2 linked regions of the Homo sapiens genome follow. The protein of the gene in region 1 purifies or fractionates together with the protein of each later gene. This does not show direct contact. Each region holds a gene or a part of one and is shown on either strand. Other genes may lie near its edges.

Region 1 (7,000 bases):
TCTATGTACCTTTCAGCAAGATGATAGCATAGTCAGTTCAGTTCGTTAGTCAGGCAGCAGTTTAGTGCTACAGGTGTTGCTGGAAACTCCTTAACTTTCTATGGAATGAAAAAGTCTAGCAATGATACCTATTCCAAAGCAGTGCAGTTGGCGCTACCTTTACACAGAATACACAATCTCTTAAAAATACACTTATCTCAAGCTGAAGCACACAAACTTCTAAAGCCAGAAATTAAACCGAGAAATGACTGCATGAGATAAGTAGTTCCAAATGTTCCTTATGCTTTAAAGTGAGAGGATCATCAAAGTGTCAGGGAATTCAGTATTCTGTGAGACAGACCAATGAAATTTGAGAAACACTTTAACTTTGAAAGTGCAAACACGTAATTCAGGAAGATGCACAGTTTCATTAAAAGCTTAAATTAACAGAGACTCAAGAAATAAGTGAAGCCTGTAAATGGTGAAAGCAAAAGAGACTGAGGAGCTGATACCCAAACTTGTGAAGGAGAAGCTGATGAACAGCTTCAGACTTAACTGCTATTATGATTTACTAAATCATTCTTTTATATCTCCTGTGGTTAAAAAATGAAAACCAACCTGGGCTGAAAACAGAAGACTGAATGCCAAAATGTTTGGAATCCCACTTCATTCAAATAGTGACCACTGGGGTTATGAAGAAAGAGAAGTTATTGGTTTCCACAGAAGCAGAGTCAGCAGGGGTCATGGTAGTTAAGTAGTACCTTCATCTTGTCTCCAGAATTTAGTTCTTGATTCATAAGTAGGAGGTTATGAAGGTAGAAAGTTGTAGATTTTTGAATATATGAAACAACAAGGTTACTAAACAGTTTAAATTCTCCAAGCCTAGGAGAATTTCTAGTTCCTCGTCGTCCACTCTTTATTAAAAATGAAAAGTGAATTTACCATCTATTGGATGCCAGCACTGTTTGTTATTTTTTTTCTCCCGTTCTGTTTCAAAAACTGTAATGCAGTGAATTTGGGAGGGGGAAAAAACGCATCTTCAAAAACTATAAAATGTATTTGATATAGCAACTCCTCCCTCACCCCACCCCCAAACAAAACAAACAAAAACAACCTCCAAAGGCAAGATCAGAACATAGCTGTTTTCATACTACTCCAGGCTGATTTCAGATGGCTTCAAGGTAGCTGTTGTTAAACTAGGACAAGGCAGAGTGTCCAAACATCCCAGTGTGCCTGGGACTATCCCAATTTTAGCACTGAAAGCCCCATATACTCTGAAGATAATAGTTAATAATTTTTGCCAATGGATGCAGAAGATTCTGGGAAGTACAAAACCCTAAGGTAGACAAAAAAAATTAGGGTCCAAAAACAACCCTGTTTTTAGTGTCAAATGGATATGGCACAGATTATCTATCACTTTCTGTAACTGTAGCCATTGTTTTATTACCTGATGATGGCAACCATCATTTGCAGTTCACAATAATGGATTATCCATTGTTGCATCATTCTAAGTAATATGACTTAGGTATACAACTTAAGTGTGCTGTAACTGTGAGCATTAACAGTCTGTGACTTAGTGGATTAACTGGCATTTTATATCAAGATACTGTTTTACTTTTAGTATCGTGAATAGTATGACCATTTCTAAGAGCTTAAGTAATGAAAATGAGAGCAAGACCCAGGCATCACTAAATGAAAGAAAAAACAAAAGGAAGGAAAAGTTTCTAACATTCTTCCTCTTTTGTCCATACTTATGCTTGCCTAGTTTCAGAAATTCCTGAATCCATTCCCAATCAACTAGAAGTTAAACTAAGGCCAGGTGCGGTGACTCACACTTCTAATCCCAGCACTCTGGGAGGCTGAAGTAGGTGGATCACTTGAGGTCAGGAGTTTGAGACCAGCCTGGACAACATGGAGAAACCCCATCTCTACTAAAAATACAAAAATTAGTCAGGCATGGTGGTATGCGCCTGTAATCCCAGCTACTAGGGAGGCTGAGGAAGCAGAATTGCTTGAACCTGGAAGGCAGAGGTTGCAGTCAGCCAGTGAGCTGAGATGGCGCCACTACACTCCAGCCTGGGCAACGGAGCCGAGACTCCATCTACTCCATCTCAAAAAACAAAAACAAAAACAAAACATTAAACTAATGACTGTTTCTATGCTATTTATATCTTTGAAATAAATTACTAATTAAGTTGCCCATTTTGTTTTGTCTTTCTTTAGCTTCCCAAACTGTCCAAAAGTTGGATTTTGGGTTTCATAAGAATTGTCATTTAAAATACCACATGACTGTTGAAAAATACTTTGACTGTTGAAAGAATGGGGAAAAAATACCAGGTAGGTATGGGAGAGAAAAGATGGCTGTATAGATTAAAGATAGCTGCAAATTATTTGTCATTCTTCCCACTGAAGGGTGGAATCTACTCCCTCTCCCCTTCAATCAGGGCTGGCTCTGTATTCTTTTGGCCAATACAATGTGGAAGACGTTAACACTGTAAATTTCTGAAGTTGGGCCTCAAGAGATTTGTGGCTTTCCATTTTTGCCCTCTTAAAAGTGCTGCTTCATCAATAAATAATACTTCTCCATAATAACTTATTATTTTTCCTTCTCTTGTTCAGTCGCCCCTTCCTTTGGGGGGAGGTACAGGAAAAAGAGGTAAGAGTAAGAATAGGGAAGCAAAGTGATGAGGAAGCGGGGAGAAAGGGAGAGGAAGGAAATGCTGAAGAAAGCTGAAGCTATTAAGTCGGGTCCCAGGCTACAGTCTGACTTCCCCAATAACTTAAGCTGTGCCAAACAACCCTTCTATACCTCAAGTTCCTCAAATATTCAACATACTTTTCTAATAGCAACAGGAATAATCAATTTATGAAAGTCTAGACATACAAAGTATGTAATTTCATTCTCTTTCCTCTCTCATTACAACACTGGTCAAAATCAGCTAATATCTAGAAAAAGGTAGTCAGTGAAAGAAAAACAATGCAAACTAAAATTCAAATAGAAGAGAAGACAAGCAAGTAAAGGAAGCTCTTTTTCTTTTCTCTATCTGCTAATAAAATAAATAATATCAAGTAACACGGAGTGCTTATTATATGCCTGGAATTGCTTTAAGTAATATATATTTCCTCAATCCTCATGGCAATCTTATAAGGTAACTACAATTATTATTTTTAACGACAATTATTACCCTTGTTATATAGCTGAGAAAACAGAGAAGTTAAGTAATCTATCCAAGATCACATAGCTAACAAGTAGTAAAGCCAGATGTTGAACCTCAGCATTCTGACTTTTGAGTTCATATTCTCAATGCATTTCTAGCGAAAATCACTTTCTTTTCTCCTTCCTTTCTTTCTTCCTTTCTTTCCTTCCTCTCTTTCCTTCTTTCTTTCCTTCCTCCTTTCCTCTTTTTCCTCTTCTTTCTTTCTCCCTCCCTCTCTTTTTTCTTTCTTTCTTCTCAGCTCTGTCACCCAGGCTGAAGTGCAGTGTCATGAATTGCAGCCTCAACCTCCTGGGCTCGAGCAACAAGCAATCCTCCCACCTCAGCCTCCTGAATTCCTGGGACTTTGGGTGCATGCTGTGACATCCGGTTAATTTTTGTATTTTTTGCAGAGATGGGGCCTCGTTATGTTGCCCAGGCTGGTCTTGAACTCCTGGGCTCAAGCAATCCTCCTGCCTTGGCCTCCCGAAGTGTTATCTCAGGATAACAGGTATGACCCACTAAACTTTGCCTGAAAATCACTTTCATTCCAAGTGAGGTTCTACTTTACTGTTTCAAGTACATGAACTCACATGATAAACAGAATTTATCACTTTAACTGGGATGAAATCAGGAAATAAACATACTTAAGTAAGGAGTAAATAAGGAATGACACCATGATGTAGTTTCCAAAAGTAATGCAATCAAAAGAAAAAGAGGTGTATTCCCCTAAGTAGGCAGAAACTAGAAACCCTGTTCATATTCCATGGAATGCCAATCGTTTGGGAGAAGCTGTGCTCTAGTTCAACAGACAGTGTTAGGTATTTACGGTCTCCAGTAAAACTGGCAAACTGATTGGGTTCTGCAATGAGTTTATATATAACATAAAAGACTGGCTAAGGCGAAATGGAAAACACTTTTCATTTGGAGACAGAAGCATTTTTGCTGGTATCTGTAGAGAACAACATTGCATGCAACAGTTTAGCATCACTCTTTTCAACCTAGTAGACAAGGTCCATAAAGGAAGACAGGCTGAAATGAAAAGGAAAACAAACTAAAGTAGTAGTATATGTATATTAGAAAGGAAGGCAGAAAAAAGTTACTTCAGGAAAAACGGGAGAAAATATAGGAGAAGGAATTCACTTGGTTAAAAAAAAAAGGAAAAGAAAACTAGATATGAACAAGTGCAGTACAAAAATGAAGAAATGTATAAGAGAGTAGGTAGGCTTGTTAGAGCCCCCAGAGTGAAAAAAAGAAAAGGTAGAATATCAAAAGAAAGTTTATAGGAACAAGCTAGCCACCATCAATCACCTTTGTCCTCTATTCCAATCATCTCCTAACTGGATAATCTGCTGCCCCTCTCTGAAGCTCTCTCCATGTAGCAGCTGATGACCTTTTTTTTTTTGGGTGGCAGGGTCTCGCTCTGTACTCCCAGGTGGGAATGCAGTGGTACGATCATGGCTCACTGCAGCCTCGCCCTCCTGGGCTCAAGAATCCTCCCATATCATTTTTTTATGTTTTTGTACAGACACGGGCTCACTATGTTGCTCAGGCTGGTCTCCAACTCCTGGGCTCAAGCAATCCTCTCAACTTGGCCTCCCAAAATGCTGGGATTACAGGCGTGAGCCACCATGCCCGGCTATTGACCTTGTTTGAAATAAATGTGATGTCACCTCCAGTATCATCTTGCACCGCTCTCCTATCTGACACCATTATTGTCCTCCCTTAAGTTCCCCAAACATGCCATGCTCCCCTATTTTACTCTCTCTACCTAGAAAGCACTGCCTCTCTACCTTCTGTTCTCTAATACCCACTTCAAACCACCCTGATTAGATCCAATTCTCATGATTTCAGGTTAAGTGTCCCTTATCCGAAATGCTTGAAACTAGAAGAAATGTTTCAGATTTCAGATTTTTTTTTTGGATTTTGGAATATTTGCAAATTTTATTATATTATCCCAACTGAGCATCCCAAATCCAAAAATCTGAATTGATTCAATGAGCATTTCTTAGGGGGGTCATGTTGCTTCAAATTCTGGAGGATTTTGGATTTCTAAATTTGGGATGTTCAACTTGTATAAACAATCCACCACTGATTGCTGTACTTGTCAGTTGTAATTTTACATTTAAAAGTATTATTTTATTATTTTTTACTTTCCTCACTAGACTGAACACTCTATGAAAAAAACATGGTTTCTTCTCCCTCACTGTTATGCCTCTCAGTGCAGTGTCATTGCCTACAACATAGTAGGTGTTCAATAAGTATCTGTTGACTGAATAAATACAGGGGAGCAACCTGCCAAAACTGTCTATCATAAGTGGAAAAGGGGTTATGAGCAACAGTTAGTGAAGAGAAGTGAAAGAAACAAGTCAAAGAGGGGAGAGGAGAGTAGAAAATTTTAACACAAGCTGTGGCTTAATGAAATCCATACAATTTTAGTGTGCTTTTGTATAAATAAAGACAACCAGTAGGTCTCCTTTTCCCTACAGAAGCTATAAAAAGAAATGGAATTAGAATCTTAGTAGTTATAAAGATATAAAACATACTTCAGAGCAAAAATGTCAAACAGGCATCTCAAATTTAGTATGACCAGTGTTGTTAATTTCCTTCTCATTCTTCTATCAGTCTACTCCATCTCAGTAAATGGCAGTACCACTAATACCTCAGGCTAAACAAAACCTTTTGATTCCTCTTATTCTGACACTCAATGTACAGTTCATCAAGTCCTGTAAGCTCTACATCCAAACATATCCTCAACCTATCAACTTCTCTTCCCCAGTCTCCACTGACATCATGCTAATTGAAGCCCCGACCACTTCTACCTTGACTACTACAATATTATCCTAATTTATTGTCTTGCTTTTAATCTTGCCCCCTAATTAATTCCACAAAAAGCAGCCAAACTTTTTTTTAAAAAAAGATAAACCATATCATTACACCCCCTTGCGCCAAACTCGTCAATGGCTTCCCGCTGAGAAAGATATAAAAATTATTCATGATCCTGCATGAAAGATCTCCTGCCTCTCATATCACTCTCTCCTTTGCTTTCTACATTTCAGCCTTTTTGTTTATCAAATCAATCTTTACACGCATCCCCTCTGCCATATTCTGAAGTGTCTCTTAGTTAAGGTGTTTACTTAATTAAGTGTAACCTCCTCAGGGATGCCTTTCTTGACTTCAATGCTATGTAAAATGGCTTCCCCATCATTGCTGTTTATGTCTTCCGTATTTATCATACTGTTTATCATCTGGTTTATTTCATTAACAACAAATATGTTTCAGGTGCAAGAAATATGATGGTGAAAAAAAAGTCATTACTTTTTCACAGTTTATTACAGAGATATGCTTTCACAGAACCTAAGACAGAAGACTAAATAAAGGCAGAGTCCTTGACTCTCTTATGCACTTCACCGTGGTACACTGACTGTTAGAGTAGGATGCTGTAAATGTGATGAGCAAATGAAAACCTAGTTTAGTTTTTCAAGGACTCGACTGGAAAGTAAAGAAAGTGTAATATGTAGATGTCTTAATATTAAATCCTAGGAGCCTATGTATGGGGAAATATTTTGAACACTTATAAACCTGGTAATACAAAATATGCAGCAAATTATGGTGGAATATTTTATTATTATTTGAGATGTAGTTTCGCTCCTCGCCCAGGCTGGAGTGCGAATGGTGCGATCTCGGCTCACTGCAACCTCCAGCTCCTGGGTTCAGGTGATTCTCCTGCCTCAGCCTCCCGAGTAGTTGGGATTACAGGCGCGCGCCACCACGCCAGACTAATTTCTGTATTTTTAGTAGAGACGGGGTTTCACCATGTTGGCCAG
Region 2 (8,598 bases), on another chromosome or scaffold:
TACAGGCGTGAGCCACCGCACCTGGCCCTCTGTGGTTATTTTGGATTTAATATTTGAGAAAGCCAGGGGAAGGTGATCCAAGAATTTCTTGTACCAGTTTTACAACATTTTTGTTAGCCTGAAATTATTCCAGAAAGGAAAGATAAAAAATAAAAATAAAAAATTTTTAAGGTCCGTAAACTCTGACCCAGAACTTCAAATTCTAGCAAGCTATACCATAGAAATAGTTGCATGTGGCCGGGCGTGTTGGCTCACGCCTGTAATCCCAGCACTTTGGGAGGGCGAGGCAGGCAGATTACCTGAGGTCGGGAGTTCGAGACCAGCCTGGCCAACATGGTGAAACCCTGTCTCTACTAAAAATACAAAAATTAGCCAGGCATGGTGGCATATGCCTGTAATCCCAGCCACTCGAGAGGCTGAGGCAGGAGAATTGCTTGAGCCTCGGAGATGGAGGTTGCAGTGAGCCAAGATTGTGCCATAGCACTACAGCCTGGCCAACAGACCGAGACTCTGTCTCAAAAAAAAAAGAAAAAAAAAATTCATGTAAAAACATGTTTGCTGAAGCACTGCTTATGAGAGTTATACATTGGAGCTGGGCACGGTGACTCATTCCTGTAATCCCAGTACTTTGGGAAGCCAAGGTGGGCAGATCACTTGGGGTCAGGAGTTCAAGACCAGCCTGGCCAACATGGCAAAACCCAGTCTCTACTAAATATACAAAACAATTAGCCAGGCATGGTGACGGGTGCCTGTAATCCCAGCTACTTGGGAGGCTAAGGCAGGGAGAATTGCTTGAACCAGGGAGGTGGGGGTTGCAGTGAGTTGAGATCATGTCACTGCAGTCCAGCCTGGGTGACACAGCAAGACTCCGTCTCAAAAAACAAAAACAAAAACAAAAAAAACCTGGAAATTTATACTGACCCCAGGATAGGCTAATTCTATCTTCCCACCAGCTAAGAAACCATCTTGTTTTCCTCTAACTTTTCCCCATTAAAATATTTTTGCCATTTCTAAGGTCTATGTTAGTGATTTGCAAGGCAAAGAAGTTTATCCCTTTTTCTACTAACTGGTGCACATCTCAGTTAACTGCACAGATGTGCTAATGATCGATTTTTACCTTATCTTGTACAGCGGGAGCTACAAACATATTATAATATTTAATCTGATTTTCTACCAATGTTTTTCTTTAACATAGGGCATTAACTCTTAAATGTTATCAAAATAATTATTTTTATTAAAAACAACTAAAACAAATGGATACAAGAAAAGCTATCAAAATACAGACAGATTTAAAAACCCAATTCTTTTGGCTACCTCTTTTCCTCAGAATTAGCAAAGAGTTCTATTAATGTGGATTTGACTCAGTTTTGACTTGATTGTCCTTACTCTGCTATTGTCACCAGTTTTTCTGTTGCTAACCTTTTAAAAACCATTTTGCCAGGTGTGGTAGCTCACGCCTGTAATCTCAGCACTTTGGGAGGCCAAGGCGGGTGGATCACCTGAGGTCGGGAATTCGAGACCAGCCTGACCAACATGGCGAAACCTCAACTCTAATAAAAATACAAAAAATTAGCCAGGCGTGGTGACACATGCCTGTAATCCCAGCTACTCGGGAGGCTGAGGCAGGAGAATCGCTTGAACCTGGGTGGTGGAGGTTGCGGTGAGCTGAGATCGTGCCATTGCTCTCTACCCTGGGCAACAAGAGCGAAACTCCATCTCAAAAACAAACAAACAAAAAAAACTATCTCTTCCTCCTTTTCCCCCTGCTTAATCCTATAACATACTTATAAAACATCTTAATGATATATAATTATTAGCCTAAGACTTTTATTTAGAAAAAAACATAGTGTAGTCCATATCTTCTGTAGTGAAATTTCTTACTTCAGCTAAGAAAAATTTTAAATTGCAAATGAAAGTTACTAAAATTTTACTTTATATTCCTTGACTCAAAGATTCACTTAAAGTATTGATTGGGACATGAACACAAACACCTACTGTAACATATAACTACGTATAAATATTATTCCAATCAACTACTTTACCTGCTCTCTTGACAATGATATGGGTGGTGCTGCAGTACATCCTGTAAGAAACGTTCCATCAAACTACTGGTACATATTTGACGTCTACTCTGTCTGGTCAAACTCCTGTGCTGAGCACTGAACAAATGCTATAAAGAAAAAAGAAATGGAATATTTTTAAATGGACAGTATTCAGTAGTGAGAGTTCGACAAAATGGATTCATTTCTATACTCTTGGTAAAATTATGAATTGAAAGCTTTTCTATAAAGCAATTCTGAAATTTGCATCTAAAAACCATAAAACTACTTTCCCTTAGGTAAAATAATGAGATTTCCCTAAGTACAGCCTAAGGAAATAGTCTTAAAGGTAAATGATTCATGCAAAAAAGATGCCATTATCATAGCATAACAAAAAACTGGAAACCTCCTAAGTTTCTAACAGTAAAAGACTTCAATTATAATAGGCTCTAAGATGTAATACTATGCAGCTATCTAAAATAATACAAAGAATTTTAAGTAACATGGGAAACGTTACATATTAAGAAAAAATGAGTGTGGTAGTGTGGCCGAGTGGTCTAAGGTGCTGGATTTAGAAAATTTTTAATAACATGGGGAAACGTTACATATTAAGAAAAAATGAGTGTGGTGTGGCCGAGCAGTCTATGGCGCTGGATTTAGAAAAAAATGAGGAATGCAAAAACCACACGTATGGTTTCATGTCAAACTACAGTTTAAAAACATACAGACAAGTAAATGGAAGAAATTACAGTAGTCCCCTATTATCCGCAGGGAATTTGTTCCAAGACCCCCAGTGGATGCCTGAAACGGTGGATAGTACCAAACCTATATATGTTTTTCCTTACATACCTATGATAAAGATTAATTTATAAACTACACACAGTAAGGGATTAATGACAATAACTGATAATGAAATAAAACAATTATAACAATATACTGTAATAAAAGTAAAATAAGGGTTACTTGAACACAAGCACTGTGATATCCAACAGTTGATCTAATAACCAAGACAGCTACTGAGTGACTAATGGGCAGACAGCAGGAATACGCTGGACAAATGGATGATTCATGTCCTGAGTGGGACAATGAGTGGCAGCGAAGGATTTCATCAAGCTACTCAGAATAACATGCAATTTATTTGCCCATTTATTTCTGGAATTTTCCATTTAATATTTTCGAGCCACATCTGGCTGTAACTGAAACCAACCACAGATAAGGGGGGACTAGTGTACACCAAACCTTACTAGTACAGATATCAGTGTGGTGCAGTTATGGGTAATTTTTCAATTTTTCTTATAAATTCTTATATTTTTCAATGAGTAAATGTTTTTTAAAATGAAAATCTGTTAAGAGAGAGAACAGGGTTGGATTATTGTATTAAAAGAGGTCAAAGATTGACAAAAAAGGTACCTTTATTTTCTTTCAGAAATTAAAAATCCCAACTTAAACACAAAATTAAAATAAATACACTAAATTTTTCAGTCTTGTAACTCTCTCTACAGTTAGAAAGATTCTTTCTTTACTAATATTATTTAGTGGAGTAGCAAGCAGAATGGGAAAAAGTCTACCTATGGGGCACCTATGATGTACCAAACACAGTGCTATTCCATTTACACAGTAATCTTCATTGACTTTTCACTGAGTAAGAATATCGTCCCCATTTAGCACGAAAAGACTAAGGCACAAAAAATTAGAGTAAACTGGGCTGGGCGCAGTGGCTCAGGCCTGTAATCCCAGCACTTTGGGAGTCTACAGTGGGCAGATCACCTGAGGTCAGGAGTTTAAGACCAGCCTGGCCAACAAGACGAAACCCTGTCTCTACTAAAAAATAAAAAAATAAAAATTACCCAGGCATGGTGGTGCTGCGCGCCTGTAGTCCTAGCTACTTGGGAGGCTGAGGCAGGAGAATTGCTTGAACCCTGGAGGCGGAGGTTGCAGTAAGCCGAGACTGCATCACTGCACTCCAACCTGGGTGACAGAGTGAGGCTCTGTCTCAAAAAAAAAAAAAAAAAAGAAAAGAAAAGAAAAAAAAAGAATTAGAGTAAACTGCCCAAAGTTTTATAATGAGCAAACAGCAAGGCCAGGATTTGAATCTAACTCTGAAGCTTATCCTCTTTCATTGTATTATGCTAGCAAATAGCAAATGGCATATTTCTAACATGTTATTTATAATTTAATAGTGCATTTTAATTTAACAATACTTAGAAAAGACATTTTAAAATATCACGGTAAAGGTGTTAAAGAACTTAAATCAGGTTGCTAGCTCCTGACCACTGTGTTACAACTCTTGGAATTATTTTCTTCCATGTTGACTTCAGAGGTCCATGCTAGTGCTCCTAGCCCCAGGAACAATCTAAATTATGATGCTTTCAAAATCCTGCTACGAAACTCTCCACTGTCCAGGACCCATCACCAGAGTTAGACTGCCTGGTGATTAAAGGGGACAAATGCACAAGGAAACAAATAAATATTCAGTTAAAATTCAACGTTACTGAATAAAGAATATGTGGTACATATACATCATGGAATACTACACAGCCATAAAAAATGAGATCATGTCATTTGCAGCAACATGGATACAGCTGGAGGCCATCATCCTAAGCAAATTTACACAGGAACAGAAAACCAAATACCACATATTCTCACTTTTAAGTGGGAGCTAAACATTAGGTACATGTGGACATAAAGATGGGAATAAAAGGCACTGGGAGACACTGGGTCAGGAGAGACAGGGCAGGGGGAAAGGGCTCGAAAAACTACCTATCAGGTACTATGCTCACTAGCTGGGTGATGGGATCATTTGTACCCCAAACCTCAGCATCACACAACATACCCACGTAACAAGCCTGGACATGTGTCCCCCCGAATCTAAAATAAAAGCTGAAATTACAAAAATAAATACTAAAATCCAACCTTGTCCTCTCTCTGCCAAGGCAAAAAGAAAAAAGCAATGTGAATAGAAAACTTCATTTACATCCTATAAGGTATCCGTTCCTTTAGATTTTTTGAATTGATGTATAACATAAAGTACACAAATCATATGCATACAGCTCAATCAACTATCACAAAGTAGACACATCCTTACCATCTATCCATAAAAAGTTGACAAGCATCCAGAAATCCCTGTAATGCCCCATCCCAATCCCTTCCCTTTTCCCCAAAAGTAACTATTACCTAACTTTTAATACTATAGTTTTGAAATTTTCTGAAATGTATATAAATGGAGTCATATAATATGTATGCTATTGCATTCAGCTTATTTTACTCAATATTATATATGTGATATTCATACATATTGGCTGAATCTGTTCATTTTCTTTTCTGCATATTCATTGTATGAATATGCCATATCTTATTTATTCATTCTACTCTTGATGGACATTTGTGTTGTTTCTAGCTTTTGGCTATTACTAATAATACTATGAAGAACCTTCTTGTATGTGTCTTTTGGTGCCAATGTGCATGCATTTTTGTTGAGTGCATTATTAGGAGTGAAACTTCGGGGTCATAAAATTTGCATATGTTCAGCTTTAGTACTCCCTACCGACCAGTCTTCCAAAGTGGCTGTACAAATTTATATTCCCTACCAGCAGTATTCCTATCTCCTTATCAACACTTGCTATTGTCAGTCTCTTTAATTTTAGCTATTGTAAGGATGTTTATTGTTATATCACTGTGGCCTTAATCTGTAATTTTTGCAATAGCTTTTCATATTTACTAGCCATCTGGATATCCTCTTTTACATTGGGTCTGTTCAAGTCTCTCTGTTTTTCAAATGGATGTTCTGTCTCTTCCTTATGGACTTGTAGAAATTCCCTATTCAGGACACCAGTTCTTTGCTCAATTATATGTGTTTCAAGTACCATCTTCCTCTCTGCAGCTTCTTTTCACTTTCTTAATCATCTTCCATTGTTTAACTTTATTGCAGTCCGGTTTTATCTTTTTTTCTTTGTCAGTGCTTTTTGTGGCCAGAAATCTCTCTTTACCATCAAAGTCATAGAGATTTTCTCCTGTTTCTAGAAGCTTTACTATTTTGGCTACAACATGTAGCCAAATCATAGTCTACTTCTAACTGATTTTTATATGCAGGGTGATTCGGCAATAAAGTTTCATTTTCCTCTCCATATGAATATTCAATTGACCCAGTATCATTTATTGAAGAAAGTCCTGTCCTCACTGCTGTGCAGCACCTTTGTCACAAATCAGACATCCATAAATGTGTCTGTTTCTGGAATTCCTGGTTTTTTTCCATGGTCTTTCTAACTCTGCAGCAAAACTGCACTATTTTAAAGACTAAAGACTAAAGTTTCATAAGTTTTAGTATCTGATAGAGGACATCTATTCACTTTGTTCTTAAGATTATCCTAGTTCTTCTGAGCCTTTTACTTTCCCACATTTATTTTTGGAATTGGCTTTTCATTAAAAAAAAATACTTCTCTGAGATTTTGATTGAAATTACATTGGATAAATATAACAATCTAGGCAGAACTGACATGTTTACAATATTGATTCTTCAATCCATGAACATGAAAATTTCTTTCAAGGTTTATAGTTTCTAGTTTAAAGATCTTACATTTTCTTATGTTTATTCCCTAGATTTTGATGTTCTTTGATGCTATTGTAAATGATTTTTTATCTCATTTTCTGCATGGTATCTGTATATAAAAATACACTTTCTTTTTACATTAGTGTAACAACCTTTTAAAATCACTTATTGATTCTAATGGTTTATCTAGATATCTTTTTAGTTTTTATGTCCACCATCATGTTGTGTATAAATAATAGTTTTATTTCTTCTTATCCAATCTTTATCATTTTTATTTTTCTTTCCTTATTTCTTTGACTAGGACCTCTGACAAAATATTGAATACAGTTGTAATTCAAGCATCAAACCTATTTTCACTTAATGTATTACTGATAGAGTTGTATTTAACTTTTTCAATCTGTTACTCTTGCCTATACAACTATCCCTTTTCCTCTCCTTTCTTGTCTTCTTGTGGACTACGTTTCATCATTTCAATTTTTCCTTTTCTGTTAACTCTGTAGTTAGTTACAGACTTTTCATAGTCTATTTTGGTAAGAGATTACAATGAGCAACCCTGAACTGTCAACGCCTAAAATTACTTGTTACTTTTATTCTCTTTATAAACAATGCAAAGTCCTTAGAAATTAACATCATTTACTCCCCTCCCAATTTATATGCCATTGTTGTTCATCCCACAAGACAGTATTCACTTAGATTGATTGCCTACATATTTACCTTTCCACTGTTCTTCATTACTTCCTGTATCTCTGAGCTTCCATCGGGAATCATTTTCCTTCTGCCTGAAGAACTCCTTTTTAGTTTTTCCTTTAGTGAGAGTCTGCTGGTGACAAATTCCCTTAATTTTTATTTCCTGAAAATAGTTTTATTTCACCTTCCTTATTAAAAGATATACGTATTGAGTAGAGAATTCTAGGTGGCAGTTGTTTTCTTTCTTTTGGCTTCCATTGTTTCTGTTAAATACTTCACTAGATATGGGCCCCATATTACTTCACTGCTTTTACAGTTCTCCAAAGCCTTGAAATACAAGGCTGCAAACATTGTCAACAAAATATTATTAATAGCAAACCAAATCCAGCAACATATAAAAAGGATTATACACCATGACCAAGTGGGATTTATCCCACAGATGCAAAATAAGTTTAACATCTGAAAACCAATCAATCTAACTGCTATAGGTTGAACTACATCCCCCCAAAATTCACATGTTAAGGTTCTAACCCCTAATATTTGGAGACAGGGCTTTTAGGAGGTAATTTAGGTTAAATGAAGTCCTAACAGTAGCGACATCTTCAATAGGATTGGCGGCCTTATAAAATAGGAAGAGAAATCGCCGTCTCCCTCTGCTACAGGAGGACACAGTGAGAAGGGCTGTTAGGTATTGGTCTGTGGCCTGCTAGGAACTGGGCCACAGAGCAGGAGGTGAGCGGCAGGCAAGCAAGCGTTTCCACCTGAGCTTCACCTCCTGTCAGATCAGTGGAGGCATTAGATCCTCATAGGAGCGTAAACTCTATTGTGAACTGTGCATGCAAGGGATCTAGGTTGCGTGCTCCTTTTGAGAATCTAATGCCTGATGATCTGAGGTGGAACAGTTAAATCCCAAAACCACCCCTCCACCCCATCTGTGGAAAAATTGTCTTCCACGAAACCAGTCCCTGGTGCCAAAAAGGTTGAGGACCGCTGATTTAAGCTACCTAGTCTATCGTATTTTATTATGGCAGCCTGAGCTGATGAATACTGTAATATATTACATTAATAGACTAAAGGAAAAAAACACATACATCTAATAGTTGCAGAAAAGCATTTGACAAAAGCCTATACCCTTTCATGATTAAACACTTAGCAAATTAGGCTAAAACCCACAACTAACATCAAACTTAATGATGAAAGACTGAAAGTTTTCTCCCAAGATCCAAAAAAAACCAAGGATATCCATTCTCACTACTTTAACACTCATCATACTAGAAATTCTAGCAAGAGCAATTAGGCAAGAAAAAGAAATAATGGCATCCAGAT

Evidence for each region. Proteins that work in one complex are often made in the same cells at the same time.
Region 2: the proteins of SENP6 (region 1) and ZDBF2 purify together in Homo sapiens (affinity purification with mass spectrometry; 2 studies listed by BioGRID and IntAct, with this or other methods). This does not show direct contact.

The regions. Positions count from the first base shown.
Region 1 is NC_000006.12:75,604,880-75,611,879, reverse strand, and holds part of SENP6 (sentrin-specific protease 6), read right to left. Parts: intron 1-7,000.
Region 2 is NC_000002.12:206,290,818-206,299,415, reverse strand, and holds part of ZDBF2 (DBF4-type zinc finger-containing protein 2), read right to left. Parts: intron 7,406-8,598; exon of another isoform or gene 7,354-7,405; coding exon of another isoform or gene 7,300-7,353; intron 2,171-7,299; coding exon 2,043-2,170; intron 1-2,042.